4 linked regions of the Homo sapiens genome follow. The protein of the gene in region 2 interacts with the protein of the main gene of each other region in a biochemical or structural test. Each region holds a gene or a part of one and is shown on either strand. Other genes may lie near its edges.

The links.
Region 1: the proteins of PSMC2 (region 2) and ZFAND5 are reported together in a solved structure, tested with the Homo sapiens proteins (one study listed by BioGRID).
Region 3: the proteins of PSMC2 (region 2) and UBLCP1 form a complex in vitro, tested with the Homo sapiens proteins (one study listed by BioGRID).
Region 4: the proteins of PSMC2 (region 2) and PSMD5 form a complex in vitro, tested with the Homo sapiens proteins (one study listed by BioGRID).

Annotation. Positions count from the first base shown.
Region 1 is NC_000009.12:72,354,444-72,362,472, forward strand, and holds part of ZFAND5 (AN1-type zinc finger protein 5), read right to left. Parts: intron 6,345-8,029; 5' UTR 6,336-6,344; coding exon 6,185-6,335; intron 5,779-6,184; coding exon 5,667-5,778; intron 5,079-5,666; coding exon 4,975-5,078; intron 2,614-4,974; coding exon 2,488-2,613; intron 1,659-2,487; coding exon 1,510-1,658; 3' UTR 1-1,509. UniProt on the Homo sapiens protein: Involved in protein degradation via the ubiquitin-proteasome system. May act by anchoring ubiquitinated proteins to the proteasome. Plays a role in ubiquitin-mediated protein degradation during muscle atrophy.
Region 2 is NC_000007.14:103,354,990-103,363,018, reverse strand, and holds part of PSMC2 (26S proteasome regulatory subunit 7), read right to left. Parts: intron 7,326-8,029; coding exon 7,226-7,325; intron 1,063-7,225; coding exon 931-1,062; coding exon of another isoform or gene 927-930; exon of another isoform or gene 552-926; intron 334-551; coding exon 261-333; intron 1-260. UniProt on the Homo sapiens protein: Component of the 26S proteasome, a multiprotein complex involved in the ATP-dependent degradation of ubiquitinated proteins.
Region 3 is NC_000005.10:159,274,987-159,283,015, reverse strand, and holds part of UBLCP1 (ubiquitin-like domain-containing CTD phosphatase 1), read right to left. Parts: intron 7,869-8,029; coding exon 7,770-7,868; intron 4,779-7,769; coding exon 4,662-4,778; intron 1-4,661. UniProt on the Homo sapiens protein: Dephosphorylates 26S nuclear proteasomes, thereby decreasing their proteolytic activity. Recruited to the 19S regulatory particle of the 26S proteasome through its interaction with 19S component PSMD2/RPN1.
Region 4 is NC_000009.12:120,819,746-120,827,774, reverse strand, and holds part of PSMD5 (26S proteasome non-ATPase regulatory subunit 5), read left to right. Parts: intron 1-867; coding exon 868-1,010; intron 1,011-3,089; coding exon 3,090-3,281; intron 3,282-6,310; coding exon 6,311-6,420; intron 6,421-6,795; coding exon 6,796-6,936; intron 6,937-8,029. UniProt on the Homo sapiens protein: Acts as a chaperone during the assembly of the 26S proteasome, specifically of the base subcomplex of the PA700/19S regulatory complex (RC).

The sequences.
Region 1 (8,029 bases), on a different chromosome or scaffold from region 2:
ATGAACAAGTGAAGTTTCCCTCTGTACATGGCTTTTATTATTTACATAATACAATATAGCATCAATGCTGAATAGCATGATTATGTGCAATACATAAATATGAACTATCTGTACACATCTGCAGGTCTAACTCAGAACTAAGGTACATAAAATTGAAAGCAAAACTGAATGCTTTAAGAATAAAAGTAAAAACTAGGACTGAACATTGCAATAAATCAGAAGTAGTGCCTCGTGTACATACTTAACTATTTACAGATGAAAACAGGCATTACCACAACACTAACTATACTCATTTATATATAAAAAACACAAGTTTCATACATCACAAAAAACCTTCCATTATAACACAGAAGTGATTATTACCAGACAAGCATCAGTGAAGTATACTGCCTTTTCTAGTTGTTATTGTACAATGCTGTAGATAATGCAGCCCATGCAATACACCCAAGAACACTAGAGTCCTACACCCAAGTACAATATGATAAAGCAGCCCTCTGCAAGTGGTGCTGGATACCACTAAGAAGTCTACTGCAGCCATGTTGGTTATGATTTTCCATGCAGAAGGGTACAGTTACATTAAGAACTGAAGTCTTTTAAAAAGCTTTAAACATTCTTTCTTGAACCAAAACATTCGACAAAAGATGCACATGAAAAATTATTCAGATACCTTTGCAACTTAAAATTCAGATGCATGTTATTCAATAGAGCTGCTGTATGTGAAAACCAAACGTAGAGTTTAAATTTCTTCTTGTAAACAAATTAATCCTAGTGCAGTTCTGTGCTACACATTTTTAGCAATGAGTAATGCAGACATCTTCTGGTGCAGGCCAGTACAATAAGCTTCAAAGGTTATCTCAAGACCCTGTTGTTGGCTTGATGGTTTTACTTATAACCAGTTTCGATGTTTACCTTTCACAGAATGTCTTATTTGACAGCTTTAGATGACCAATTTAACCAGGCTTATATATGGCGCCAAATACTGGTTTCACGGGAAAGAAGGTCTGATCCTCTTTATGAGCATTTCTTCCTGCTTCCAAAGAATATGTTGTGAAATTAAAGAGGGTGAAGTTTAACTATGGTAGAAGTAGACTGCCAGTCCTTTTCTGGTGTACCATTTTAAAAAAATACAGGCACATAACACTAGCCAAAGATTATACCTTGATTACATTCCCAAAAGGCAGATATGCTGCAAACATGCAGAGATTTCATTTATTTTGTTTGGCACATGGGAACTACATTTTGTTCCTATTATCTGTGTGTTTCACTTTGCTGTGCAGATTTTCATCCAATTTTTTTCAGGGGAGGGCATATACATTTGTAGGGCTGTATCTATCCAATTCTGCCTGTAACAAACACCCAAACATCCTAAAATATCAATTATAAGACAGACAAGTGTAATGTAAAACTCTGGAGAACATCAAAGAAAAATGGCCATGCATCTGCTCTTTAATGTTTTCCTACGATATATTAAAATAAAAACAAAGTTTCAGTCTCTTCACAAGAAGTAATTTATATTCTCTGAATTTTTTCAGCCACAACAACTGGATTCTCTTTTCTGATTTTTGCTGCAGCTTCTGCTTTGTAATCATACGGACAGTTGTGCTTGTCAGAGTAACGGTGAAGTCCACAAAACAAATTTCCACATCGGCAGTCAAACCCTGTACAAACGAAGAAGTAGAGTCATTTGAGAACTTGAGGCAATTAAAAGAAAAAAAAGCCTTAGTCACTATAGAAAAGGAACCAGATTTTCATTGCTTTGTAACATAAAAGACAGTGAACTCTTTTCTTCCACTTCCTGGTGATAAGACACAGTCAACTCTTACAGAGTCTATCACGTTAACCTGGAAAAGGAACTTTTAACTTCCTTTGACATGGTGAGAAATTCAAATAACTATGTTCAGTCTTTCCTTGCAAGGGCAATAGCGAAGTGTTTGGTAAGCCAAACCACGTGGAGAAAACAAAATGGGCTATCTGCCAGCTAATTTCTCCCAGATGCTCTCCCTCTATCGACTCCTGTAGATGCAACGCAGGATAAAATTTACACAGGCTCTGGAGTTAGGCTAAGCTGGATTCAAAACACAGTCCTACCATATCTTAAGTAATGCTTCCTCAAGTGAAAACAACCATCAAGGTCTGAGATTTGAAGGAGACAAGAAAAAAAGCACCAAGAACATTCCCTGCATAGCTCAAAGTAGGTGGCGCTTACTGTTAGTTCAGTAACATTTTCCCTAGGTATACAAAAACTTTTTATCAATCTAATAAAATAAGAGGGCCTGAGTTAATAGTTTTATATGATTAGGAGACAAATGGAAGTAAAACCCAACTTCTTTCCACCCCAATACCACCTCCTCCACCTTTCCTAGACTACAGCTAGTCAGGCTTTTTTTTTTTTTTTATGTGTAAGACCAACTAGTCTCTTAGGGAGTGACCAAAAGCTCCTTGTTAACTGCAGAAGTAAAACATACATTGTCTTGTGTTTTGTAATACCTGTAAGACCAACTTTCTTTCTGCACATGAAACATCTGTTTTTCTTTGGTTTGGGCAATTCAGGAGCTTTTTCTTCACTCTGAGAAGTACTGGGCTGAGAAACTGATGGACTGGGCTGAGTGACAACTGAAAAGGACAAAAACACAAATTTGTCAAGCATTCACTGGCTAACATTTTTAAGTCAAAAAAGGAAGTATTTAAGAGAAACAGGAAGATGCCTGATAAAAATGTTTATAAGTATTCCTTGAAAATACAAGCTTTAAACAGAATCTTCCATTTTAACATCAGAACTTGATTCAAATCTGAGAAATTCCTGCCAATCACCATACTACTTGCTTCTCTAATTTTGTAAAATGATCGCTTCACTCAAGAAATTCCTTTAAAACACTGGTAACAGCCAGTACTAAAAACAAAATCCTAATTCTGTTTTAAAGAGCTGGGAGATGTTAATCATATGCTCAGTTTTTCCACGTTATAATTTCCTAAATGCAAACTTTTCAATCAGGGCAGTTCAAATTCATTACATCACAGTAAATAACAGTAGCCAACTTTGATTTTATGCTTATAGGAAAAAAAATCCTGTAGATATAAAAACAGCAAATTTTGACAAATAAAACTCAAACCATTCATCCCTAAATCAACGTCAGATCCAAAAATTCCAAAACAATCATTTTACCATTTTCACAGGTGCACTAAACATCATAGGAAGACTTGAAAGATTTTTTTAAACCTTGGTTTTAAAAACAGATCGGCAAACAGTCTTTAGAAACTACTCGAGAAGTATTGATTTTAAACTATTAAGGATTCCACAGGCAGAACAAGAATCTTATCTAAAATGGGCATCCACTATCGACAGAGATAGCATCTACAAACAGTCCCACCGTTTCTCCACCTAAAAAGGCTTTAAGTTTCAGTGTACACATGGCATCAATAAAATTTCTCACAATGAACAAAAAATACATTACTGTACTAAAGCCCACACTGCCACTAGTTCTTTAACACAAAAATAACAAAATTTATATCTACTTACATATAATTCAACTACACCTGAAACACTATAAACTCAGGTTTTAATATTAATCCAAATGTAACAATAGCAAATTTATGTATGCAATGCTGAAATTACTGCCCAAATATGCCAGCACCAATGCTATTAGCATATAGACAAGCTCCTACAACAAGCTGATTGATTTAATGGCAATTTTCTCTAAAACTCTGCCCAAATTTATAATTCAATTGCATTAGCAATGAATCTACTGGGAGAAATAGCCTAATATTAGACTAAACGAACAATATTCTACCTACTGCTACTGTGACAACATTAATGTTTATCCTGATGTCATGAGGATAAAGAATAATCTAGGGGAATAGTTGTATGGGGTAGAGGGAGGGTGTCAGCCATTTCTTTGGCCACATCTGAAAAATGAACTACGGCTCCTGAGACAAGGGAAGAAGGGGGAATAAGAAAATGACACAGAAAAGGCAAATAGCAGTGAATCACAGAATGCCTACTAAGTAATAATAAATGCAGACTAGCTCTAACCCAAGACTATTCTTCCAAGGTCAGAGTAATTTTGTATTTAAAAACCAAAACCAAAAACAAAAACCCAAACAAAGGCATCACGGGCAAACTAATGTGGTCAGTTTAAGGATGGAGCTCATTTCAAAATGCCAAATATAGATTCACCTGCCAAACTTGAGAATTTGGCCTTAACTTTGTAAGATTAATACAATAAACAAACTTGACTGCTGTTAGCAAAAGCCAGCCTCCAAAGCAGACTGTATAACCACTGACAGTATTTTTTCACAACAGAAGTTTTATATTGCATTTAATCAGCACTCTGCCAAAAAAGAACAAATTGATAAAATAAGCTACGTGCACTATATAAAGCACAGAAATCTTTTTGTTCTAGGGCCTAGTACAGGTAATTCAAGTCAGTCTTCTTCCACCATCAGGGCACTTCTGGTTGTGCTATATAAGCAAAGTTTCCAAAGTCACCATATCTCATGAAAACCAAAATGCCTTTCCACACTGAGTTTCAAACTCCCACAAAATATGATAGGAATATTGTACTTCAAATAAGTTCTAGTGTTCAAATATGTTGTTCTACTTAAAAGTTTTCCACAACATTGACAATATCAAAACTAAAGTTACTGCTTTTGGTTATAAAATTATTCCTTATACCCTTGAAATTTAACTTCATCAAGTTTTTAACACATCCAATCTCCAGATTACAGACTTTGCCCATTATGCACAAGGGTAGTGCAGGGGATGAGCAGAGAAGAAACTGAGAATAAATATGACTATTTTACACTTCAAGATACTCATACTCAAGATACTTTTAAAGATAGTAGTTCTTTGCTTGGCCTATATTTTATGGCTCTCCCTCCTCTTTGGTCCTTCAATGGGAAGGAAAGAATCCCCCCACCAGCCATTTCTTGCACTATCAAATTCAGAACTGAACAAGTATTAAATGAAAAACATACCTGGCTCTGACACCTCTGTTTTCGGGGTAGTTATTTTGTCCTCTCTTGAAATGCTCATTTCTGTCATTTGCTGAGTTACAGGCAAGGCAGCCACAGGCACATTTCTATTTGAGTTCAAGCAAACAATTTTTAAAGGTGTTAAGGGTACTTCTTGAGACAATGAATAAGTTGTCAGTTCAACTTTAAATTATAGAATATTTCCAAAATGAGCAAATGGAGCTAGATAATCTAAAGTTTAAAAAAAAATTGGATGCCCAGCACAAATGGTTGAGAAAAAAGTTTGATAAATGGCTCATGAACTCGAGGCTGCATTTTGTATAGGTTACCATATTTTACAACCAGCTAGGGATTTTTAGCTGTGCCTGTAACTTGTTTAAGGGCAAAAGGGCAGCTCTGCCAAAACACCTTGTCTGGCCCAATAATATTCTACAGTCTCACTCGACAATCCCTAAACCTCAATTACAAAGAAATAAAAAAGCACAGCATTTCCAACACAGTATCCTTGAGGGGGTTAGGGAGTCAGGTGTAAGTAACACACATCTTTACTCAATGACTTAAGAGTCATGTATTAAAAGACACTGAAATCCTCGATTGCAAAGCCAAGGGTATCTATTAACTTATTATTGGACCAGTACAGACATCTTGATTTCTTCTTTGTAATATCATAAAAACTCTGAAACGTTCAATCTTACCTTGATTTTTCAGATGTGCTGCCAGCAGCACCTTCACAGTTGTTTAAGCTAGTGTCTGCTCTCTGTACAGATGCAGAATCTGAGGTAGGACTGTTGGAACCACTAGCTGTTCCTATTTAAAAAAAGGATTTGTAAGGAACCAATGAACACTACAAAAACTCACTTAGTATCAAGACGTAGTAATAAATACTTGCATTTAATTAGGTTAGTGATATAAGCATTCACTGTGCTGTAATCCTATACTTGAGTATCCAAACAAAAAATATTAAAAAGTCAATCCAATGAACACAAGTGTGAAACAAAATAACCCCAAAAAAGAAAACTGAAAAGCTATAAGATGCTTGTAGATAGTCATTCATTCCTGATCAGTCATGTCAAGCACTTGGGCTGTTGCTTGAATTTCAAGCTCTTATCAGGTGTTCTCTCCATGTGCTTTCAGCATTCTCAGCCCCAATTCTTGGTTCTGTATTTCTGTCCACCAGTTCTTTCAAATGTGTTTTTCCTTGGAAATAACTTACCCATTGGGCTCATTCTGCCACTATTTTGCTGCCTCTGAAGATGTTCTTTGTAGCAAACTGAACACATTCCATTTGTCCTAGGATTTCCATAAAAGCCACATCCTGTGCTACACAGCATGGGCCCCGGGGTCTGGTTAGTCTCCTGAGCCATATTTTTCTGCTATAGATGAAACGAAATTTCAGAAATTAGTGTTATCACCAAAATATAGTCTAATATAATCATCGGTATACCGTTGTAATTGCTACGCAAGTTTTAACAAAAGCCCAAATTCCGTTAATCATTAAAAAGGGTGGGCAGAGATAATTATCAATATTTTGTTGCCTTTATAAAAGCAAACTGTTTTAGGACCAAAAAAAAACCCAAAAAGAAATTTTATCAATTATTAGGGTATTTTTACCTATCACTATTCTTGGTTTCAATTTATGAAAAGGTCTGTTAGCTCTCAGGGTTATGTTTTAATCAATTTGGGAAACTGGTATCTTTAACTTTTCACTCTGCTGCACTACAGGCAGACCATTTCAAATGTTTTTACTTAATTGGCTAATCACAATTATCACTGAGTCTTGATATTTATAGGTAGTTCTTTAAACTGGATGAATAAAGTTTTCTTAAAACACCTGTACATATCTGGGCTTCATCAGTAATTTGACAAATCTGCTGAGGCAGAGCATCTGTACTTTTTAATGCTGAAACATCTTCATATAAGGCTGAAAAGAGAACTGGTAGCCCTTCCTGCTACCCTGGCACCAACAAGTAAATCTCTAAGAATTTAGGGTCAGCTGGTTTACGAAACTCCTTTTACGTTCTCCATTTGAAGTTTCAGAGTATGTCAAAGCCAGTGCCTAGGAACCTGCAATACACAAATTATGAACCAGATTTCTCAGCCAAAGGCACTATTAATTTTAACAAGTGCTTGTCTTCCTCATACCAGAAAATAATAAAACCGTTCCAAGCTCAAATTCAATGTATTAAAGTCAATATATACACATAACCTTTAGTAATGGTTAATATTCAATGCTGGGTTACCAGAAAAAGCTTTACATAGCAAGCATTTGTTTCCAAGGAAGATTTGCTTTTCTAAAAGTCTTGTTAAAACGCTGTGCTAAATTATTAATAAGTTTTCCTCTGGATGAGAAAATACATATTAAAGAAAAATTATTTTAAAATAAAGTTGTGGAGGGTTTTCATGTCATCTTAAACATGTATAAGCATATGTACAAAAAGCATATTTGAGAGCATTTGCTTAAAGGAAAATTCGTGTGCTGTAACTTGTGGTCAGTCATTTTTTCCAACTACATACTAGAATACACTTTTTAGTGAGTTATTAAAAAACGATGTTTTAACAAGTATTAACTACCAAAATTAGAAGATGGGAGAAGGGGACTAACCAATTTTGACCTGGCCAGACCCCTGGTAATTATTCCCCAAAACATTTTATCTTCCCTTTTGTAAGTAAAAGTGCACCATACAAATATTAAGACAATCTAGCTTGTGTGGAGTGACCAAGATCCACAACTTACTTTTAACAACAGTATTAATTTAGTTGACACTGTCTCTTTAAATATTAACTGGAATTTAGCTGACTCATTTTGGAGCAGGGTAGTGTAAACATTTCAACATCACTTAGGAAGTTTATTAATAAACACTTTCAGCTGGGTTTTTAAATGAGCATAATAGGAGCAAAAAATGCTTTCAAATGATAAATATGTATGTATTTGCATGCCCACCACGCACAAAATATGTGTGAATGTTTGCCCTATGCATGAAAGTTGGGTCACTCCTTAAAACCAGTTTAAGTATGCTAGCTTACATTTTCTACACTGAGGCCCAGTCTCATGTGACAT
Region 2 (8,029 bases):
AGTTCGAAACCAGTCTGGCCAACATGGTGAAACACCGTCTCTACTAAAAATACAAAAATTAGCTGGGCGTGGTGGCGGGTGCCTGTAATCCCAGCTACTCGGGAGGCTGAGGCAGGAGAATTGCTTGAACCCGGGAGGCAGAGGTTGCAGTGAGCCAAGATCACACCATTCTACTCCAGCCTGGACAAGAGTGAAACTCCGCCTCAAAAAAAAAAAAAAAAAAAGACATAGCCTTCCTTTTCCCTCCCATAGTTTCTTACCTGCATCATGGTAACTGTTGGGTCAATCTTAGGAGGCAATGGAATGTGAATTTGATATTTATTTCTATCCACGCTAAGGAAGTAAAAAAGATAGTCATTAATACATTCTTTAAGCTTTCAAAGTGCTTTTATGTTTAGTCCTTTATCCCCAAAACCATACTTTAAGAAAACAAGAGAGAGACAGAGTCCCTAATTATATAAAGAGAAATAAAGAGAGCATGAAATCTGAGGATACTAAACTACATGTCTAATGTCGCAAACAACCTATCCAACAGCAATCAAACCTTTGAGGAGGGAGGGGAGATTTTTTTTTAATTTACTAAGTGAGTTGTTATGTATTCTATAGACATTAACACACTTAGCATCACAACTATCCTAAAGCAAGTACTCCCCCAACCTATACCATGTTACCTTAAATGGACTGGTAACCTCAACTCTGAAATTTGAAGCCATTCATAATAAACAACAGTGGGAGTAGGGGAGTCAGCGAAGCCGATGGGAAGTTAGGAAGCAGATGCAGAAGACAGAATTTTCAACTATAGTACATTACTAGATCATCCTTTGGTATTCCAAGGAACTCAGTCCATTTATTCACTACAAAGCCAAGGATATGAATGTGAGACAGTATCCTTAGTGAAAGAAAAGTATTTATTGTAAATAGAAATCTTACCCCACTCTCATCCCTTCTTCAATGTCAGTAGGTGCCACCTGATCACTAAGGTCCACCACAAACTTGGCAAACTGCTTTACGTTGATAATGTATTTTGGGTCCTCCGAATCAGCATTGATTATCTTTGTACACCTAACACAGCAAAAAGCTTGATTAGAATAAGGAACCTAAGCCACTAATAATGAATTCAACTAACTAGATTATATCCTGAGTGTGCAATATACAGGTATAAACTAGAACTACAGAAACTGGGACACTGTTAAAGATCCTTTTCTATACCCAACTCCAAAGGTCCATTCGACTTTAGCCAAGTCATAAAATTTTCAAATACATTCTCCTGGAAAATTAAACCCAAATATCTCATCATTAAGAAGTTCTCTGATTTCTTGATTTCCATAGTTTGTATTCCTTTATTATTAGTGATGCTCCTGTATATCTTAAGTTGCTCTCGTTTTTATTTTCCCTACAAAAAGATGGTCATCTTGTCTTACACCAAATTCAGTAATAAATGGGTTTTCATTCTTTTCCTGAGTTTATACTTTAAATCCGTTTTTCTTTTTTTTTTTTTTTTTTTTTTTGAGATGGAGTTTCACTCTTGTTGCCCAGGCTGAAACACAATGGTGTGATCTTGGCTCACTGCAACCTCCACCTCTTGGGTTCATGCAATTCTCCTGCCTCAGCCTCCCGAGTAGCTGGGATTACAGGCATGCACCACCATGCCTAGCTAATTTTGTATTTTTTTTTTTTTTTTTAGTAGAGAGGGGGTTTCTCTTGAACTCCCAACCTCAGGCTAGTCAGGCTGGTCTCGAAATCCCAACCTCAGGTGATCCGCCCGCCTCAGCTTCCCAAAGTGCTGGGATTACAGGCGTGAGCCACCACACCCGGACTTTAAATCCATTTTTATTGTTTTTGCTACTTTTTTCTTTTTTTAACTGAGGCAGTAGAAGCTTGTTTTTTTTTCTTTTTCTTTTTTTTGAGACAGAGTCTTGCTCTGGAGCCCAGACTGGAGTGCAGTGGTGCGATCTCGGCTCATTACAATCTCCGCCTCCTGGGTTCAAGCAGTTCTCCTGCCTCAGCCTCCCAAGTAGCTGGCATTACAGGAATGCGCCAGCACGCCCGGCTAATTGTTTTGTATTTTTAATATATACGGGGTTTCACCATGTTGGCCAGGCTGGTTTCAAACTCCCGACCTCAAGTGATCCACCTGCTTCGGCCTCCCAAAGTGCTGGGATTACAGGCGTGAGCCATTGCACCCGGCCAGTAGAAGCTATTTTTAACTTAATTATATTCATTTCCATATGGCCTGGTAAAAATGAATTTATAATGCCATGCACATCACAGTATAAAATAGTCAACCGCCTTTCCCCTTCTATAGTATCTATCTACTAAAGAAAAACAAAAACAAAAAACAGAACTCACATTAGAAAGCTGCTACATAAGCCACAGCAAGAATTACAGAGAAATACAAAAATAGCCTGTGGAGTGCGCACATAGGTAGAGCTAAAAGTAAGGTACAGAATGCTTTGGCTTAGCCAGGTGTGGTGGGATGCACCTGTAGTCCCAGCTACTGAGGAGGCTGAGGCTGGAGGATCACTTGAGCCCAGGAGGTCAAGGCTAAAAAAGAATGCTTTGTCCTGATAGCATAATTGTGTGAAGGACTCTGTTTTCTGTTACCAACCATGTTTGCTAGGGAAGAAGAATTATACCCATTCTCTACCAAAAAAAAAGAGGCTGACCAAAAAACCTGAAAGGAAAAACAAGAACAACAAACAGCAATAATACCAAACCCTGGGGAAAGGAAGAATTTGATTTCCAGAGGTGACACATTACATTATTTTAAATGTCTAGTTATCACCAAAAAGTTATGAGATGCAAAACATTATGAAATGCATTTTCCCTTATGTATGACATTATGGCTCATACATAAGGGGAAAAAAATCAGTCAATAGAAATTGTCCCTTAAGAAGCCTAGATGTTGGTGTTATTAAACAAAACTTTTTTTTTTTTTTTGAGACGGAATCTCACTGCTGCCCAGGCTGGAGTGCAGTGGCGCGATCTTGACTCACTGCAACTTCCGCCTCCCACGTTCGAGCAATTCTCCTGCGTCAGCCTCCTAAGTGTCTGGGATTACAGGCGCCTGCCACCACGCCCAGCTAATATTTTTATATTTTTAGTAGAGACAGGTTTCACCATGTTGGCCAGGCTGATCTCAAACTCCCAACCTCAAGTGATCCACCTGCCTCAGCCTCCCAAAGTGCTGGGATTACAGGCATGAGCCACTGCGCCCAGTCAAACAAAAACCTTAAATCAGTACAAGAAATATTTTCAAAAAGCTAAAGGAAACCATATCTAAAGAGTTTATAGGAATGATGAGAAGAATGTCTCACCAATAGTGAATACAGATAGAGAAATTAGACTGGAATATTATTTGGCCATAAAAAGTTCCATCTATTTTAGAATACGGATGAACCTTGAAATATGCTAAGTGAAGGAAGCCATGTACTATATGATTCCATTTAGATGATATGTCCAGGATAGACAAATTCATAGAAACAGAAAGTAGATAAATGGTTGCCAGGGGCTGGAAAGAGACGGGAATGAAGACTGCTAATGGGTATTGGGTTTGTTTTTGGGGTGACAAAAATATTCTATTCTGGAATTAGATAGTGATGATCAATGCACAATTTTCTAGATATTCTAAAAATCACTAAATTGTATACTTTAAAAGAGTGAACCTCATGATATCTGAATTTTATATCAGTAAGATTGTTATTAAAAAAATTCATAAGCTGGCTGGGCACGGTGGCTCACACCTGTAATCCCAGAACTTTGGGAGGCCAAGGTGGGCAGATGGCTTGAGCCTAGGAGTTCAAGAGCAGCCCAGGCAACATGGCAAGACCCTGTCTCTACTAAAAATTAAAAAAAAAAAAAAAAAAAAAAAAAAAAAAAAGCCAGACATGGGGTGGTATGCACCTGTGGTCCCAGCCACTTGGGAGGCTGAGGTGGGAGCCCAGGAAGCAGAGGCTGCAGCGAGCTGAGATCATGTTACTGCACTCCAGCCTTGGTAACAAAGTGAGACCTTGTCTCAAAAAAAAAAAAAAATTCACAAGCTAAAAATTACACATACACAAATTTTATCAAGAGTTTTAAGCAAAGAGTATGAGACTAAAATCAATGGAAACTTTTTCAAAATAATCTTTGCTTTCTTTAAGGCCTGGGATCTTGTAGGGGTATAGGGCTCTTTAGCTAGTCTGTCTGTTATGAAAAATCTATATGAAAAGTTTCCCTCTAACTGCTTTACAGAAAAAAGAAAATTCCCCTCATACGGCCTAGAAAAATGTACCTAGATTTTTTAATTTACCATAGAGAGATAAGAACATATTACAACCATGATATAAGAGCAGAACATTCAACACACACACAAAAATGAAAGAATAAAGATAAGAGCCTTGAAATAAAAAACCTGAGTTTTTTTACCTGAGAAATTAAAAACCTACGAGAAGAAAAATGGGAGGAAAAAAACATCAACAGAAAAATTCAAAGATAAAGAAAAGCTCATAGAAAGTAAAGTAAAAAGGCAAAAAGAAGAAAAACAGGAAGGAAAGATTAGCAAATTAGAGGAGCAATCCTGGAGGCCCCATATCCAAATAAGAGAATTCAGGAATAAGGGTCCAAGAAAACGGAAGGAAAGAAATTAACAAATAGTTTCAAGAAGATTTGCCTTACTAAAGGACAAGAGAGCCCAGGACAATGGATGAAAACAGACCAACACCAAGGCACATCACCATGAAATTTCAAAATAGAACAAGAGAAGACTCTACAATTTTCAGAGAAAAATTAGGCCACATATACAGGACTGAGGATCAGAATGGCTTCAGAGTAACACTGGGAGGCAAAGGACAACAGAACGACGCCTTCAAAATTTTGAAGGGAAAAGAACTGTATACTCAGCTAAGACACTTTCAGACATATGCAGTCTCAAAATATTACCTCCCAACTGACCCTTTTCCAAGAAGCTACCAGAGGATGTATTAGACCAAGCAACAGGAGAGAGGTAAAGGGCAATCTCCAGGGTAGAGAAGTCAGACAACAATTGTCATTAAACAGGCATAAAGGACAACTGGTCCAAACCAAAGCAGGTCAGAAGGTGCTGGGAAAAACTTAAGGAAAATGAAACCGAGAGAACACCAGATGCAACTAAGGTATAACTGAGAGAAAACGAACAGATCTAATGCATCTGAAGAGCAGTTTAGACAATCAAGAGAAAGTGGGAGGTTGAGTTCATAATATATGCACAGAAAACCAGGCAAATGAAAAAACAAGACGTTATAACAACCACCACTAAAAGAAGTGGTACAAGAAAGGAAAAGCAATCACAGCTTACCACTTGGCTCTTTGTGAATAGTGTTTACATAGCCATAATCATATAAACACTGAATACTGATCTAACCAAAATTATAACAGAATTACATAGGAAGGATGAGGGGATAGGAAAGGTGTGCCTTCAAGGTGAAGGCAGAGGAAACAAAACAAAATCCTCATCTTCCATGATGGAAAGCCAAAAGATAATACCTAAAACTAAAAAATCAAGAAGTAGGAATCTATAATACACAAGATATAGCAATATCCATTAGAACCATGAAGACGAAAACCAAAATAATCAGCTAAAAAAGGTGAAAATGAGTGTCATTAGGGAAGAGAAATTGGGAAATACAGTTGTTATTATTTAACTGTTTAACTCTTTTCTTTTTTTTTTTTTTTTGAGACAGAGTATCACTCTGTCACCCCAGGCTGAAGTGCAGTGGCACAATCTCAGCTTACTGCAACCTCTGCCTCCCAGGTTCAAGCGATTCTCCTGCCTCAGCCTCTCCAGTAGCTGGGATTACAAGCGCCCGCCACCACACCCAGTTAATTTTTGTATTTTTAGTAGAGACGGGGTTTCACTATGTTGACCAGGCTGGTCTTGAACTCCTGACCTCAAGTCATCTGCCTGCCTGGGCCTCCCAAAGTGCTGGGATTACAGGCGTGAGCTGCCGTGCCCAGCCTGAACTATTTAACCCTTCAAAAACCATGATAAAACTAAAAAGTGAGTGAATAAATAAAAGTGAGAAAAGATGGAAATTGTGAAGTAGGGAGGGTGAGTAGATGGGAAATAAAAATAATCTTTAGCTTTTAGGAACTAAAAATAAAAACAAAATTTTTAAAAGGATTATAAACAGAGGAGAATATGTTTATAGCCTTGAATTGGGCTAGGTTTTTCTAAGCAACATTAACACCCAAAAGGTATAATGGAAATATTGGTATATTTTATCTCCTAAAAATGTAAAACATTAGTACAACAAAAGGTACCAAGAAGTTAAAAGTGACTAGGGAAAAATACTTGTAGCATACTTAAGAAAAGACAATATGTACAATATATGAACTGTTTCTAAAATTAACAAGAAACAACCCAAGAACAAAACATGAGTAGTCAAAGAAATACAGATGTTTAGTAAACAAAAGAAGTAGCTATCATACTAGTAATCAACACAGTACAAATTAAAATTATTTTCCCTCAAATGGCAAAAGTGTAAAAATTGAAAACTGCGTATCTTACATTGATCAGACAAATGGACATTTGCCTCAAAGCCTCTTGGTAAAAGTATAAACTGGCCAAAGTAATTTTCACAGGATTTTAAAACTATAATATCTTTGACCCCTAGAATTCCACTTGTAGTAAGCTAGCCTACAGAAATGTATGCACATACACTGAGAAACATTTAACACGAATATTCACTACAGCACTGTGTATAGTAACAGAAATTGTTACAGCCTAACATCTACACATTATGCAATTTTTGCAATTTTTTAAAAACACAAGAAAAAAGAAATAAGTATACCTATATTAAAGACAAAGATTCCCAAAACATGTAGTTATATCTAAAAAAAAAAAAATCAGGATATGTTTCTTTGCATGCAAATACAGGAAGATACACAGAGGATTACGAGGGCCAAACTATTTCAGTAGTTACGTTTGAGGAAAGGGCAACGGGAAAGCAAGTATGAGAAGGGAGTTTTTCATTTCTTGCTCTACATCTTTTTATATCATTTAAATCTTTTAAATGATTATGCCTTCATATATTTTTGAAGAATTGTTTAAGGCATAAAATTTTAACCCCAGTTTTGTAGAAAGCTTTATTTACTTGGAATTTGGAATCAAAATTATTTATGAACTATTGCATTATCCCTGAGACTCTAACATTAAGTGCTTGAAAATACAGACAAAGGTAAGTTGCCACAGAGCACCCGTGCATACCTGGCAACCTGTAAAGGCTGTTCACTCTGGAGTGTCTGCTTATCTGCAGCCAAATCCCAGAGTGCTGGTGGGGCCAGGCCAGTGTCAGATTCTTTAATACCTACATAGAGAAAGATGACAAAATTTACTAAAATGTAATGCATCACCCTATAATAAGCTTTCTAAACCTCAGCACTACTGATATTTTGCACTGAATCATTCATTGTGAGGACTATCATGTGCATTATAGACTGTTTAGTAGCATCCCTGGCCTCTCACCACTAGACGCCAGCAGCACCACCCTCTCTCAAAGTCATGACAATCAAGGATGTCTCCAGACATTGCCCAGTGTCCTCTGGGAGGGGTTGGGAGGGTGGGGCAAAATCACCCCAGCTGAAAACTACACCCTGCCCTAAAGTAATTGTCAAGCCAAAAATATAATGCCACATTTGACATTTTTGTGTAGGTCAAATATTATAAAACTTCATCATTCAAGTTCCCCCCAAAAAGTTCCAGGAAAGAGCCCAATTACTTGAAGCAAAACTATGTTGTGAGATCTTATTTTTATCCAAAAAAGTTTTTTGACTTGTTAACTGAAGTTTACTGAACTGGGTTTTGACCAACAGAAATATTACTGGCTTAGAAGATGGTACTATTTCTTATTTCTTAACTGCATAAGCATTAAACCTGGTTGTAAAAAGCAGTGAAAGATATGGTTAAATGAGATCTAATTTCTTAACAGAAAGGAAGAATAATGATTTTTTTTAAATCTGTAATCATGAAGGAGTAAAATCTGTATTTAAACTCTTGATATTATTCACACAT
Region 3 (8,029 bases), on a different chromosome or scaffold from region 2:
CTAACATTATCTTTTCAATCTGAACCTGACAACACCAGCTTTCTTATTGCACTTGAATCCATACACAGCTACTCTACTTTGCAAAACTACTTAGCCTTTCCCGCCTCCTATCATTCTAGTTGCTTCTAATTAATTTCATTCACATTATTTTATTCATAAAAATTTAACCCCAATACCAGCTTGATCTAACAGTACAGTGAGATAAATTTTAACGATGATTTTTATTTTATTTTTCTATTAAATTTTTATATAGCTGAGATATCATTATACATTTATATAACCTGTTTCCTCCTACATTTTATCATAAGCATTTTTCTTTATCATTAAATTCTCTGTTAAAATCATTTTTAATTATGCAAGAGTTTTCCATAAAAAGAACTGCCATATTTTCCAAATGTTTAAGGCTGATCTATTTTATGATGAAAAAGAGTTTAAAAAGCATTATTTCAAACCACACATGTCAGAATAATAGACCGAGGTAGGGGACTGCAATTAGTAAGGAATACCATATCTTGACTTGAGTGGCGGTGCTATGAATGCATATGTTTATATGCAATCTTCATCTAGATTTGTGCATAAATCTATGCTTAAAAAGACTAGAGGACTATAAATCAAGATGGTAATAGTGTTTATCTTTGGAAAGGAAAATCATGAGTAATTTTAGTGGAATAAAATTTTTTACAAGAATTATCTTTACAGTTTGTTGAACTATAAATTTATGCACTTTTCCTTATTTTATAGCTTCAGTAAAGAATTCTGCTGTTTTGTAAAAGACACCTGCTCAAATATCTTTATACAACTCAAGATAGTCTTTCAATAATTTTAAATTAATTTTAGATAATATGATATGACTAAGATTTACTTCAAAATATTAAGGAGAGGGAAGTAGCGTATAGAGCAAACAATAACCATCCATGAATTAATAAGCTAATTTAAACTGAATGATATCTACATGGGGGTTTAAGCAATTTTATATAGTTCTGTTTACATTTGAATTTTTCTGTTATCGTTAAAAAAAAATCATACATATTCCTAAAGCACACATATTCCTAAAGCACACATGTAAGGACTGATTTCATCATACTTAGCAAAGTATTAGTATATTCTTTTGATTTGGAGAAAATGCAAATTGGTCATTAGTTTTTTTTTTTTTTGGTCATTAGTTATTAATTTTACACAGTTAACACTGAAAAATGAATGATATTTAATCATTGTCACTTACTGAGAAGCAAGAACAATGAGTGAGCCCAAAGGAGTCTACTACCATACCTATTAAGTGTAGGGAAGGGTTTAAGTATTTTTTACATACTTTTCTTCTGTCATTGGAAAAACACCACCCATCTGAAATGGACAGAAGAAAATTTTCCCAGGTGTTCTACTCTCATCAGAACAGCTTGGTGCCAGTGACCTCCACACTGTTAGCTGGCTCCCATACTGCTTGAAGGGCACCAGTCAAGAGCTGTCAAAGGGAGTCTCCTCAGAAATCAGCATTTGTGGGAGATCCCACTTCCAAAAAGGTAGTGCAGCAGTGCTGTTTCCGAGCAGCAGTGAATGTGGGGGCTGAAGACGACGCTTTACAGGGCCTTGCTTAGGCCCTGGGGATGGGAGTAAACAGAGTCATGATATGAGGATGTAGTGAAATGAGTTTCTGCATAATCCTGGGTGATATGGTAATGTTTTAAAGTATTCCTTCATTCACTTCCTAAGGACTGAAAGGTAACAAATTAACTTTTAAGCAATTAATATATAATGTACCAAAGTGTCCAAATTTAAACAGCAGGAAATTACAGGGTTGGTGGGTAGTAAATAAGATTTTCAACCCAAGGCTCTGCTAAGTTATTTTTACTTTCCAAACATTTGCTCTTAAGCACTATTAAACAACAAAACTAAAATATTCTAATGATTCTGGTTCTAAAATTTTAAATAAACAAATTAAGGGTGAAAATCTATGCACCTAATTGACTTCACTTGCTCCAGTATAACCACTGTTTACTGTACATTTTTAAAAACTGATCTAAGTGATCACTAAAAGGACAGGAAACCATCATCTTGTCTCAGGTCAAGGAAGCATTTTTAGAAACTTAAGACTGTCTAGATAAGCTGAATTCTCCTATATCATAATTTCCTTGTACAGACAATAAAAATGGAGTTTTCAGCCGATAAACTGCTTTATCCATGACCAAGATTCACATTCTTTTAGTGTAATTCTAAATTCATATTCACAGTACCTTCCATGTACTTCAAACCTTATGACTGACAAGCTTATGTTTAATAGAAGTTAACTATTTTAAAAATGAGCAGTCTTATTTTTAAGATCTACATGAAATCTTTGAGATTTCTACCAAGTGCATTATGAAAGCATGATAACAAAACACAGCATTTGAGGATATTTCTCCATTTTAGAACTCTTTCTGGGCTGGGCGCAGTGGCTCATGCCTGTAATCCTGCACTTTGAGAGGCCGAGATAGGTGGATCGCTTGAGTGCAGGACCTCGAGACCAGCCTAGGCAACATGGCGAAACCTTGTCTCTACCAAAAATACAAAAATTAGCCAGGTGTGGTAACGTGCGCCTGTAGTCCCAGTTACTTGGGAGGCTGACATGTGAGGATCACTGGAGCAAGGGAAGTCGAGGCTGCAATGAGCTCTGATCATGCCACTGCACTCCAGCCTGGGTGACAGAGCAAGACCCTGTCAGAAAACCCCACCTGTTTCTATGCCGACGTGGGCAGATCTTTAATCTTAATCTTAACCTTTAATCTTTAACCTTAAAAGAGGTTTTCATGAAGTGTTATCTTGGGTAGATTAATTTTATAAAAAAGAGGTTTTCAATAAAAGACACACAAGGACAGCCTGTGGAGTGTCTAAATCTACCTCTGGAATTAGAATTTAGGGGATGGGGACATACGTATTTTTAGGAATTCCTTCAGTGGGTCTACTGAGTACAGTCTTTTAAAAACCCTACTGTAAAGTAACATAAAGAACTAGACATTTACAATAACATCTCTCCCTGCATCAAGAGATGAATGGAGCTCAAATGTTGGTTAGGAAAACAAAGTTTCTTTTAAACAAACATGAAACTAATGATTGTATTTTTTTTTTTAAAGTTAAACGTCTCCTCCAAAATTATTCCTTGACCATCATGGGATCACCTCCTTGCAAGAACAGGTAATAACCATTCGTTTCACAAACAATTAGGTTTACATCAACCACATTTCTTCTCAAGACTCAAGAATACATTTTTGTACCTTTACCTGGTGCAGTACATATTAAGAAAAGCACTTCTCTCCAAGCCTTAAACAGAAACCATTAAGGACAACATAACCACTTTTCTTCCAAGTCAACAGTTTTTATACTTATGGCAATTCACTACCTAGATTAGTATTCTTTCCCTAAAATATCCTCATTGTAAACAAAAACTCAAATCAACAGTCTGTAAGAAAGGTTTAAAAAATGTACTTTTAAGTTTTTCTCTCTTGTCTTTTAAAACTACCAAGGACCCAGCTAGTAGAAAAGTTTAGGACTGAGAATGAAAACATCTCAGTGTCAGGACTGCCACTTCGAATGGAGACTCCATGTGCAATAGTGCCATAGTATAGAGCTATCTTTTCCATTTTCATATTGCGCCAACATGTAATCAACTATGGGTACCAGAAACTTTTAAATTTCAAATTTCACTCTTACCAATTTTATACTGTTACCAGGATGAAATGTCACATAAGACTGCATGCAGTTGCATGCTAAGATTGTCACTGACCTAGGAACCAAGTCACTAGAGTCTAACCCAAATTCTGTCATTAGCCAGTTACATATACAATCTTGGGCAAGTCAGGAACTTCTTCAACCTCAGACTGTTTCCAAAGTTAAGAAGGTAGGCAAGAGATGACTGTGGTTCCTTCTAGCTCTGGCAATGTCTAATTCTAAGATCTGTACTTGCCGTCTAGGAATTTTCAAAAACGTCTTTAGTTTCAGTTTAAAAAGAAAAAACAAAGTACCCTTACTGCCATTTCTCAAGCTAACCAGAATGTTTAAAATGCCAAGATTTGTATACCTAAAAAAATAACTAATGATTTCACTTTGGATGCTAAAAGTCAATGTTGGGAAGCCCATGTTGCTCCCACAGAGCTAATTAAAAATAAAACACTTGGGCCGGGCGCAGTGGCTCATGCCTGTAATCCCAGCACTTGTGGGAGGTCGAGGTGGGCAGATCACGAGGACAGGAGCCTGAGATCAGCCTGGTCAACATGGTGAAACCCTGTCTCTACTAAAAATACAAAAATTAGCTGGGTGTGGTGGTGCGTGCCTGTAATCCTAGCTACTCAGGAGGCTGAGGCAGGAGAATCACTTGAACCCAGGAGGTGGAGATTGCAGCGAGCCGAGATCGCACCACCACACTCTAGCCTGGGCGACAGAGTGAGATCCCGTCTCAAAAATAAATAAATAAATAAACAAACAAATACTTGGATGAACTAGCTAACTATGGAGACATCAATGCAAAAAAGACAAAGTTCAATTTCTATATGAATTATTCTTAAACTTTTCTCGCCTATGACATAAGAATACAGTACTTCCAAAAATATATGAAATTCAACAGTGCTTACTACAAAAGTTCTACCACACAGCCCAGATTACATGAGCACATAACAAGTAAAAGTATGTCTTACCTTTAGTCCATTCTGTGGGTTCATTAGAAAATTTCTCCCTATGTCATCAAACATAATGGTGTTTTTCTTGCTGTAAAACTCCGAAAACTTTCCCCATATAACACCAAGAGGCTTTACCTTAGAATAAAAGTTTACATTTAACTCAAATTTTATCAATATTTCATCCTGTCTTAAAAGCAGGAATACTGCAAACTGCCCTGCAGAACAATGCCAAAGTGTTCCTTTCCCCCTGTAAGACAGGTGTGAGCTAATCATTAAATGCAACCCACTTTAAAGCACAATGCATTTTGCAATATTAAAACTTCTGAAAGGTTTGTTCATGTCCAACTGAACTAAACCCATTATAAAACTTTCCATAATTTTAACGTGAAGATTTTGGGTAAAATAAATAAATTATTTAATTTTTTAAAAATCCAAAGTAATTGTTTAGATGTCTGCTATGCAGTCACATGACTTCCTTGGTTAACACATTCCTTCTCAGAGCTTGGGAGTCACATGGAGTCTGCTTTCAAAACTAGAACACCCTAGTCAAAAAAAAACTGTATTTGGCTTTTTCAATTAATAATTTGAATATTTTATAGAGGAAAAACTCGTTTTGTCTTTAACTCAGTGGCACAGGTGCATAATTTCTAGGGAATTTGATTGCTTAACTTCGGAAGCACCATATTTTACAAATTCTTACTCTTATTTCTGAATTCTTAAACTGAAGCTTCAAATAAATAATTTCTTATATAGTCTTACCTGTTGGTATTTGTGTAAAGTCTCTGTAAGACCACACAGGAAATAACACTGATTGTGGCTAGGTACCAGGTGAAAGATGACTTTTCATTATGTACTTTACTATTTTTTTAGTCATGCAAATGTATTACACATTCAGAAAATTTTTTAAATTTCTAGAAAATTACTTTTGCTGAAGACAGAAGTCTTACGGTATTATGAGAACAGAATGTAATAATAAATATATGAGATTAAGTGGTAAGAAATAAATAGTGATAAAAGTTGTAACTTAAAAATTTTTTTCCTCCTATAATTTAATTTGGAGAAAGCTTTTTCCTTCCTATTGTCTTGCCTATTACAAAAAATGTTAATGAAATATTTTAATTTACTAAAATTTTACTTTCCTGATTTTTTTTTGCTACTGATCTTGTTTACTACCGAAATAGAAACCGCCCCCTACTCCCCCCACGAAATGAAGACAAATATATAAGAATTAATACAATAAGCCATATTTTGTGGATTTTTAGCTAACAAAAGCCTCAAGAAATATGACAACAGAGGTCATTTTTTATGACATCCAGAATAAAAATCCTACATCCTCTTAAAAAGTGCTGTCATTTGTTAATTAGGTCAAGCACCTATGTTCCCCAAAACACAAACTACTTTGCTCTCAATTAGAAAAGTAATATTGCTAACTACAGAAAAAAAACATGAAAATACTGAAAAGCATAAAGGAAAATTTTAAATCAATAATCTAGTCAGTACCAAGGGCAACAACTCAATATTCTGATACATTGACTCCAGGCATTTTTATAAACAAGAGCAGCCTCAGAGAGTTGACAGGTTCTTTGTTAAATTAAGGGTAATCCTGAACCAAACAAAGGTTAAGAACTATTTTCTAACGGCTTACAACAGTGTTCTCTAAAATACTTCTTTCACTTAAATGTGTCATGAAAATTTCTAAATCATTACATATCCTACTACATCAAATGACGAGCTACAGTCCCTTATATGGGTAGCAGTAATTTATATATCCAATGCCCTATTGCTGGATATTGAGGATTATTTTTATTCCTTTAATTTTTCACTGTTATAAAACATGTTTAACATTTCCCTAAGTAATTTTTAATGTTAAGATTTTGTAAATGTATTATTTTACTTTAGTATATAGTAAGTTATCTTTTTCTCGATACATGCAGTATTTCCTTTATAGAACAAGTCCCCATGCCCTTAAATCATTCTATTTATGGTTTTGATAATTTTAATACTGTCTCCCCTAAGGTTTCCTCGTATCCTAAGTTCTCCTCAATTCCTATTAGTTTGGGTGCTTTTATTTTACTTTATTTTGTTGAGACAGAATCTTGCTCTGTCACCCAGGCTGGAGTGCAGTGGCTCAATCTTAGCTCACTGCAACCACCGCCCCCTGGGTTTGAGCAATTCTCCTGCCTCAGCCTCCTGAGTAGCTGGGATTACAGGCATGCATTATCCAGCCCAGCTAACAGTTTGGGTGCTTTCAAATGATATGGACTGTGTCTCACTCATCTCTTTATTCCCAACAGTGCCTATCACAGGGCCTTCCAGACAGTAGATACTTAATAGTATGAGTAGTTACTTGATGAGTAAAATAACTGGTTAGCCAAACCCTTTTCTCTGATTGTTCTTGTTGCTATTCTTCAGCATCATCCCAAAGTACATGCATCATGATGCATCTGCTTTTATTACCAGTTTCAAACAGGGCAGGGTGAGTGTTTTCGCTTGTTTCTAGTATCTTCCTTGATAATATTCAGTATTTTTCTCACCTACTCTGCCCAGTAACATTGTGCTGTCATCAACACAGGTCAATTACCCACAATCACAAGTTCCTTTCTTGACAGTCCTACTTCAAGATCCCTAATTTTATCATTAAAATTCAAATCTTTTAACCTTGGCTGGGCACAGTGGCTCACGCCCATAATCCCAGCACTTTGGGAGGCCGAGGCAGGCGGATCACGAGGTCAGGAGATCGAGACCATCCTGGCTAACAACAGTGAAACTCCGTCTCTACTGAAAATACGAAAAAATTAGCCGGGCGTGGTGGCGGGTGCCTGTAGTCCCAGCTACTCAGGAGGCTGAGGCAGGAGAATGGCGTGAACCTGGGAGGCGGAGCTTGCGTGAGCGAGATTGCACCACTGCACTCCAGCCTGGGCGGCACAATGAGACTCCATCTCAAAAAAAAAAAAAAAAAAAAAAAAAAATCTTTTAACCTTAAATACATTTTCCTATGTCAAAACTCAACCACTTTATTATTCACTCAGATGAATCTCTACACTATTTACTCCATAGGTATAAACATAAAAAGTACACTGGAAAATAACCATGGTGTCATTAAATAGAAATAAAATGACTTCTTACGTCTATTAATCCTCTCCTTGGAGTATGTACTGTTATCATAGCAGCACTATCCAACATGAAAGTAATCTTATAATTTGCATTTGTGCTCACTCCCAGCTCCTATAAACACAAATATTTGTGAGGTTAAAACATAGTAGTGTGGAAAATTTCAGATTTTCTGAATATTCTAGCTGCAATTTCTCATAATGCCAACTTTCTACACCACTGGCCACTACATCTTGCTAAACAACTAGGAAGTATTTTAGTTTCACTTAGCCAAG
Region 4 (8,029 bases), on a different chromosome or scaffold from region 2:
TCTTTGTGTATATAGGTTTTGATTTTTCTTATCTTAAATGATTTTCTGATTGTCCTGTGTTCTTTAAACATGGCTGAATTTATTAAACCCATATGAGTAAATCAGTCACTAGTTACATTGCTTCAGTGCATTTGAGTGTCTCAACCTAATGAGACAATTAATTTTGTTAATTATTTTTTAGCATTGTATCAAATTTTGTGACATAGAAAAAAACCTGTAAATGGTCAGTCAAAACAGTTTAGGATCAACCACCAACTAAATAAATTTTTTAGTTATTTTCTTTGATCATGGTTGGATATGAGATGATACCAAAGAATTATTGTTAATTTCTTAATATGTGGCAGTGGCATTATAATTGTGTAAGGAAACATATGTGTTTTGTAGAGATGCATACTAAAGTATGCAGGGGTAAATGGCAGGGTGACTAGGATTTGCTTTAAAATAGTTCAGCAAAAAGTAGGGAAAAGAGATGAAATAAGTAAAGCAAAATCTTCATAACCATAAAATCAGGTTATGTGTATATGGGGGCTTATTGTATTCTCATTACTTTTGTGTATGATATTTCAAAATAAAACACAAATTTAGAAAATATTTTAGGAAGCAGCTAGGTTATAGTGGAAACAATAGTGGACTTCAAATCAGAAGGTCAAGATTTAAATCTAAACTCTGCCTATAATAACAATATGATTACAGAGAAGTCACTGCAAATTTCTAGGCCTTAGGGCTTCATGTGAAAAGAGGAGCCAAGATTATTGACCTTTCGAATGTGATAAGAAGAATTAAATAAGATAACCTGTATGAGAGCAATTTATAAACTATGCAAATCCTGTGCAAAATCTCCTTGTTTTTGTCCTTCTGACATTTTAGAGCCACCTGTATAGAAATGGTGACATCACTGGCATATACTCATCATGGGCGACAATATCTTGCTCAAGAAGGAGTAATTGACCAAATTTCTAATATAATTGTTGGGGCAGATTCAGACCCTTTCTCTAGCTTCTATCTGCCAGGTAAGGAACACTGATGCCTATGGAAATGATGGTGCGTGTTTTATTTCTGAGTTATCTCTGACATCAGGGGGTTGGGGTAGGGAGTGGACAGGGATTGTTTTCCTTTAGAGCTGATTTCCTTAATGAGCTGATTTCGTTTAGAAGATATCTAGAGCAACCAAGTTCAAATTCAACAGCACATTAAAAGGGTCATCCACCCTGATGAAGTGGGATTTATCCTATGGATGCAGGGAGGGTTCAGCATATACAAATCAATAAATAAGATATACTATGTTAACAGAATAAAGACAGCAACCAAGTAATGCGGGAAAAGCATTTCACAAATTTCACCTTTCTTTTATGATAAAAACTCTTAACAAATAAAGTATAGAAGGAATCTATCTCAACACAATAAAGGCCATGTATGACAAACCCACAGCTAACATACTCAGCGGTGAAAAGTTGAAAGCGTTCCTCTAAGATCAGGAACAAGGCCGGGCGCAGTGGCTCATGCCTGTAATCCCAACACTCTGGGAGGCCAAGGCAGGCAGATCATGAGGTCAGGTGATCGAGACCATCCTGGCTAACACAGTGAAACCCCATCTCAACTAAAAATACAAAAAATTAGCCGGGCATGGTGGTGGGTGCCGGTAGTCCCAGCTACTCAGGAGGCTGAGGCAGGAGAATCCTTTGAACCTGGGAGGTGGAGATTGCAGTGAGCCAGGATCGCGCCACTGCACTCCAGCCTGGACAACAGAGTGAGACTCCATCTCAAAAAAAAAAAAAAAAAAAGATCAGGACAAGGATGCCCACAATTACCACTTCTATTCAGCAAAGTACAAGAAGTTATAGCCAGAGCAATTAGGCAAGATAAATAAATAAAAGGCATCCAAATCGGAAAGAAAGAAGTGAAAATTTCCCTGTTTGCAAGTGATGTAATGTTTTATTAATATATAGAATAAAGTTTCCACCAAAAAACTGTTAGAATGAATAAATAAATTCAATAAAGCTGCAGGATACAAAATCAGTGCATAAAAATCCGTAGCATTTCTATACACTAACAGTGAACTCTGAAAAAGTAATCAAAGATACATTCCCATTTACAATAGCATTCAAAAAAAATTAAATATTTATGAATAAATTTAAGGAGGTGAAAGATCTGTACACTGAAAACTATAAAAACTGATGAAGGAAATTGAAGAAGACACAAATAAATGGAAAGGTATCCTATGTTCATGGATTGGAAGGATTAATATTATTAAAATGTTCATGCTGCCCAAAGCACTATATAGATTCAGTGCATTCCCTCCAAAATTTTTAAATTTAATGACATTTTTCACGAAAGCAGAAAAAATAATTTTTAAATATACATATTTCAGAATACATTGTTCACAATAAAGATATATGATTTTTTGTCAGTTAAAAGTTAATTTTTTTAAAAAGATACCTATAGCCTCTTATTGAGGTGGAATCTGTTGCTCTTGGAGCTACGTACTGTTGACTTTGGTTTTCTGGAAACATCAGTGCTATTTAGAACATTAGGATATTTTTCTTTTTGAATATCAACAAAAACATAAATAAAAATACTAGTAATGACATTTACAGTATGTTTCACAGATTAATCACATCTCTGAGTGGGAGTCTTTATCTGTTGTAGGATCTACTCTTGCCATTCTATTCTGGGTTTTGGTTGATTAGTCTTTCTTGAACACTTCCAGAAATTGGAGATGTATGCCTGCCTTAGGTAGCCTAGCTTATTTTATTAATGAACATATCCATTTAAAAATTTCTTCCTGGTAATGAGTCTAAACTTGCCTTCCTGTAATTTGTATCCACTGGTCCTTTTTCTTTGTTCTCCCTCTTGCATATGCCAGTACTTCAATAGCTGGTCCCAGCTCCATTGACGCCCTCTCTCAGGATCACACATCACAGGTCCTTCAGAATCTCCTAATGGTCTCTCTGATCTCCAGGCAACACACTACTCTAACCTTTCTATGCTTTTCTGGCCTGCAGTTCATTTCTGTTCCTGTGAAGTCATAGAGCCCGCAATTCATGCTGTCTTGTTCCCCTATTAAAATATATTTTTGTAAATCTCTTTAGGATTCGTGAAGTTTTTTGGAAACCTGGCTGTCATGGATAGTCCTCAACAGATCTGTGAGCGTTATCCTATCTTTGTGGAAAAAGTCTTTGAAATGATAGAAAGTCAGGACCCCACTATGATTGGTGTAGCTGTAGACACAGTTGGAATCTTGGGATCCAATGTTGAAGGAAAACAGGTTTTACAGAAAACAGGTTGGTATGACTTGGCCCTGTTCAGGGATATCTTAATCTTTGACAGGGGTTCAATATGTAAGTTCATTTGCTGGTGGGTTAACTACATTGTAGAAACTATTTTATGGGTGGCAGTCTTGTTAACCATGACCTTGTACTCATGTCTGAAAATCTAATAATTATTACGGAAAACCTTTTTTTTTTTTTTTTTGACTTTTCACTGGTTTAGGTTTTCATTGGTTTAGGTTTCTACCAATCGATTTCAACCAAACATTGTTTCCTGTTTCCCCTCTATGATGTCTTCTTTGACTAGATTTCATGGTACAAAGACCACGGGCTAGAGTCAGAAAGGTCTGGATTCATGTCCTTGGGTTTTCTATTCTTTTTTTTTTTTTTTTTTTTTTTAAGAGATTGAGAGTGTCTCTCTGTTACCCAGGCTGGCCCCGAACTCCCGGGCTCAAGCAATCCTCCTGCCTCATCCTCTTGATTGGCTGGGTCTACAGGTCCACACCATTGTATCCAGCCCTGACTTTGCTTTTTGAACTTCATTTACTCACTTCACTTTTCTAGGCCTCATTTTCTTCATTTATAAAAATGGCATAACAACTGCTTCTCAGGGTTGTTGTGAATATTTATGAAATTTTGAGAAAGGAAAATAAAAGTTTGTTATAAGATTTCATGTTAAGAGATACTTTTGGCATGTTAAGAGATACAATGGTTCATGCCTGTAATCCAGCACTTTGGGAGGCTAAGGTGGGTGGGTTGCCTGAGCTCAGGAGTTCAAGACCAGGCTGGGCAACATGGCAAAATCCTATCTCTACTCAAGAATACAAAAATTAACCAGGCATGGTACTGCACAACTGTAGTCCCAGCTACTTGAGAAGCTGAGGAAGGAGAATCTCTTGAACCTGGCAGGTGGAGGTTGCAGTGAGCTGAGATCATGCCACTACACTCCAGCCTGGGTGACAGAGTGAAATTCTATCTCAAAAAAAAAAAAAAAAAAAGAGGCCAGGTATGGTGGCTCATGCCTGTAATCCCAGCATTTTGGGAGGCCAAAGCAGGTGGATCACTTGAGGTCAGGAGCTCGAGACCAGCCTGGCCAACATGGTGAAACCCTGTCTCTACTAAAAGTACAAAAATCAGCCAAGCGTGGTGGTGCATGCCTGCAGTCCCAGCTACTCGGGAGGCTGAGGCAGGAGAATGGCATGAACACAGGAGGTAAAGGTTGCAGTGAGCCGAGATCACACCACTGCACTCCAGCCTGGGCGACAGTGCGAGACTCTGTAAAAAAAAAAAAAAAGAAAGAAAGAAAGATACTTTTATGGAACATCCATGAGGATCAACAGCACAACAAATTTTACACACAAAATAATATGCAGCCCAATTATTAAAATTCTTGAGACACATATGTTGAAAATTATCTCACCTGTAATCCCAGCACTTCAGGAGGCCAAGGCGGGAGGATCGTTTGAGCCCAGGAATTCAAGACCAGCTTCGTCAACAACAACAACAAAAAAAATTAGCCAGCTGTGGTGGTGCATGCCTATAGTCCCAGCCACTCGGGAGGCTGAGGTGGGAGAATCATTTGAGCCCAGGAGGTGAAGGCTGTAGTGAGCCTTGATCACTCAGTTGCACTGCAGCCTAGGTGACAGAGTGAGACCCCATCTCAAAAAAAAAATTTAAAAAGAGGCCAGGCGAGGTGGCTCATGCCTGTAATCCCAACACTTTGGGAGGCCAAGGTGGGTAGATTACCTGAGGTCAAGAGTTCGAGACCAGCCTGGCCAACATGGTCTCTACTAAAAATACAAAAATTAGCTAGGTGTGATGGCAGGCGCCTGTAATCCCAGCTACTCGGGAGGTTGAGGCAGGAGAATCGCTTGAACCTGGGCCGTGAGTCGAGATTGCGCCATTGCACTCCAGCCTGGGTGACACAGCAAGACTCCATCTCAAAAAAATAAAAATTAGAAAATAGAAAAAGAAAAAAAGAAAATTAATACGCTGTTGTGTATCACAGCTAATATTTTTGTTATATGTCGTTTTCTAAGTGCTTTTACCTATGACAATCGTTTTACAGTCCTGCAAAGAACATACATTGTCATTTTCATTTTCCAGATAAGGTAGATGAAACTTAGAGGAGTTAAGAAAATTTCTAAGGTCATACAAATTATGGCAGCTGCTACTCAAGTCCAGGTCCTTTGATTCCAGTTTTATAACTTTGCCTTATATATGCTGTGTTGCGTGTAATTATGTGTTCTAGGCCTGTCACTGGTTCTCTGACTACATGCTTATTTTTGTATTGGTTTAGGTTGGTAGAGGTCATAGTGTATGAGAGCATACTTTAAAAAAATCTCATTTTTCACTTCATATCCATTAGGATGGCTATTACTTTAAAAAAAAACCCATAAAATAATAAGTGTTAGGATGTGGAGAAATTGTAACCCTTGTACATTTTATATTTCCTTCATCCAGCAGCTCCACTTTCAGGTATATACCAAAAAAAATTGAAAGCAGAGACTCAAACAAATGTTTGTACAGTCATGTTCATAGCAGCGTTATTCACAATAACCAAAAAAAGGTGCAAGCAACCCAATGTTCATTGATAGATGAATCAATAAACAAAATGTGGTATATACATACAATTGAATATTACTCAGCCTTTAAAAAGAATGAGATTCTGGCACATGCTACAGCATGGAGGAAGCCTGCGCCACTGATAACATTATGCTAAGTGAAGTAAGCCAAACACATAAGGACAGATATTGTATGATTCCACTTAGATGAGATGCCTAAAAGAGTCCAGTTCACAGGAGGTAGAATAGTGGTTGGCAGGGGATGAGGGTAGAGAAGAAAGGGAATTATTGTTTGATGGATACAGAGTTTCAGTTTGGGTTGATGAAAAAGTTCTAGAGATGGATGGTTATGATGGTTGCCCAACAGTGTGAATGTACTTAATAGCACTGAACTATACACTAAAAATGGTTAAAATGGTAAATTTTATGTTGTGTATATTTTACCATAATAAAGAAGAATCTCACTGTTATCCTTCAAAGGAACTCGCTTTGAACGCTTGCTTATGAGAATAGGACATCAATCAAAGAATGCCCCAGTGGAGCTAAAAATTAGATGTTTGGATGCAATTTCATCTCTTCTGTACTTACCAGTAAGTAGGTAGGGAAATAATGAAGGACAGTGGGATATGTTTGGGAGAATAAATCTGTATGAATCAACATGATAAATGTGATGAAGTAAATACAAGAAGATAACCCTCATTATATGACTAGTGACATTTTTAATTTAAAATGGAATCATAGAGTGTTAGAACTGAAGAGACTCTAGAGACTGCTTAATCAACCACATTCAAAGAAAACTGGGAAAGGTCTGGGCTGGATTTGAGAAAGAGTCCTCCAGACTTAGCCAGTTTCACACAACAAATTAATGACAGAGTGCCATCAGCACTCAGGTGTCTGACTTCTAAATAAGTGCTTTTCTCCAGATCAGTTAACTTTTGATGAGATTTTCCTTTTCTTTCCTGTAGCCTGAGCAGCAGACTGATGACCTTCTGAGGATGACAGAATCCTGGTTTTCTTCTTTATCTCGGGATCCACTGGAGCTCTTCCGTGGCATTAGTAGTCAGCCCTTCCCTGAACTACACTGTGCTGCCTTAAAAGTGTTTACGGTAGGTATTCACTTCCATAGGTCCTTCTGGGACCCTGCCAGCTCAACACTTGAGTACTTAACAGTGAGCCAGAGCCTGTGCCATCTCTGGGGATGCACAAGTGCATAGTATAGTTTCTACCTTCTGCTACCTTAGAGACTAAGTAAGGAGACAGATGTGTAAACAGATTGTTTCAGTAAAAGATATTAGGTGCTGTTTGAGGTTTGAACAGGATGCTATGGGATCACACAGTTAATTCCAGACTTTTTATCTGCCATCCTCTATTAACCTAGCCCTGGTCTTCCTAATCCTTATTTCCCGTGCAGAAAATAAGGCTTCTGGCACCTAATGCTCCAGTGGTACCAAACTGTTTGTTTTGTGTCTCTGGACCTTTGCTGGGGTCTCCGTATCTAACACTCTTCCTTAACTTTGCTTCTTAACCTCTTACTCACTCGTCAAGGACTAACTCCTTGTCTTCAGCACACTTTGCCCAGATTGACAAGGTTGAGTTAAACAATGTTGGTTCTCATATGTTGCATTTATTTATTCAGCAAATATTTGTTGAGTTTCCGTTTTTGCTCAGTGAAGGGCATACAACAGTGAAGAAAATATATAAAGACCTTCCTTTCATGTAGTTTCCTGTCTATTGAAGGAGCCAGGCAGTAAATATAATTGTACAGTTACTTATATAATTACAGCTGTGGTAAGGATTATACCTTTGTGTTCTATTTGTTATATTATTTTGCAAATGTTTATTTATCGACTTGTCTTACCTATTAAGTAGAGTTGGCTGAGAGCAGGAAGCATATCTGATTTATCTTTGTAGCCCCAGCATAGCAAGATAGTAATCGCTTTAGTAATCATATCAATAATGGGATCTCAGACAGCATACATGGCCTAGACTGGGAGGGAATAAGGAAAATGGCAGGGACAAAAGAGGGAAGGCTTCCTGAGGATGCGATACAGGATCTGGGTCTTGAAGGATACAGGTATTCCTATAATCTTCAGAAACATTTTTTTTTTTGAGACAGAGTCTCGCTCTGTCGCCCAGGCTGGAATGCAGTGGCGTGATCTTGGCTCACTGCAAGCACCACCTCCCGGGTTCACGCCATTC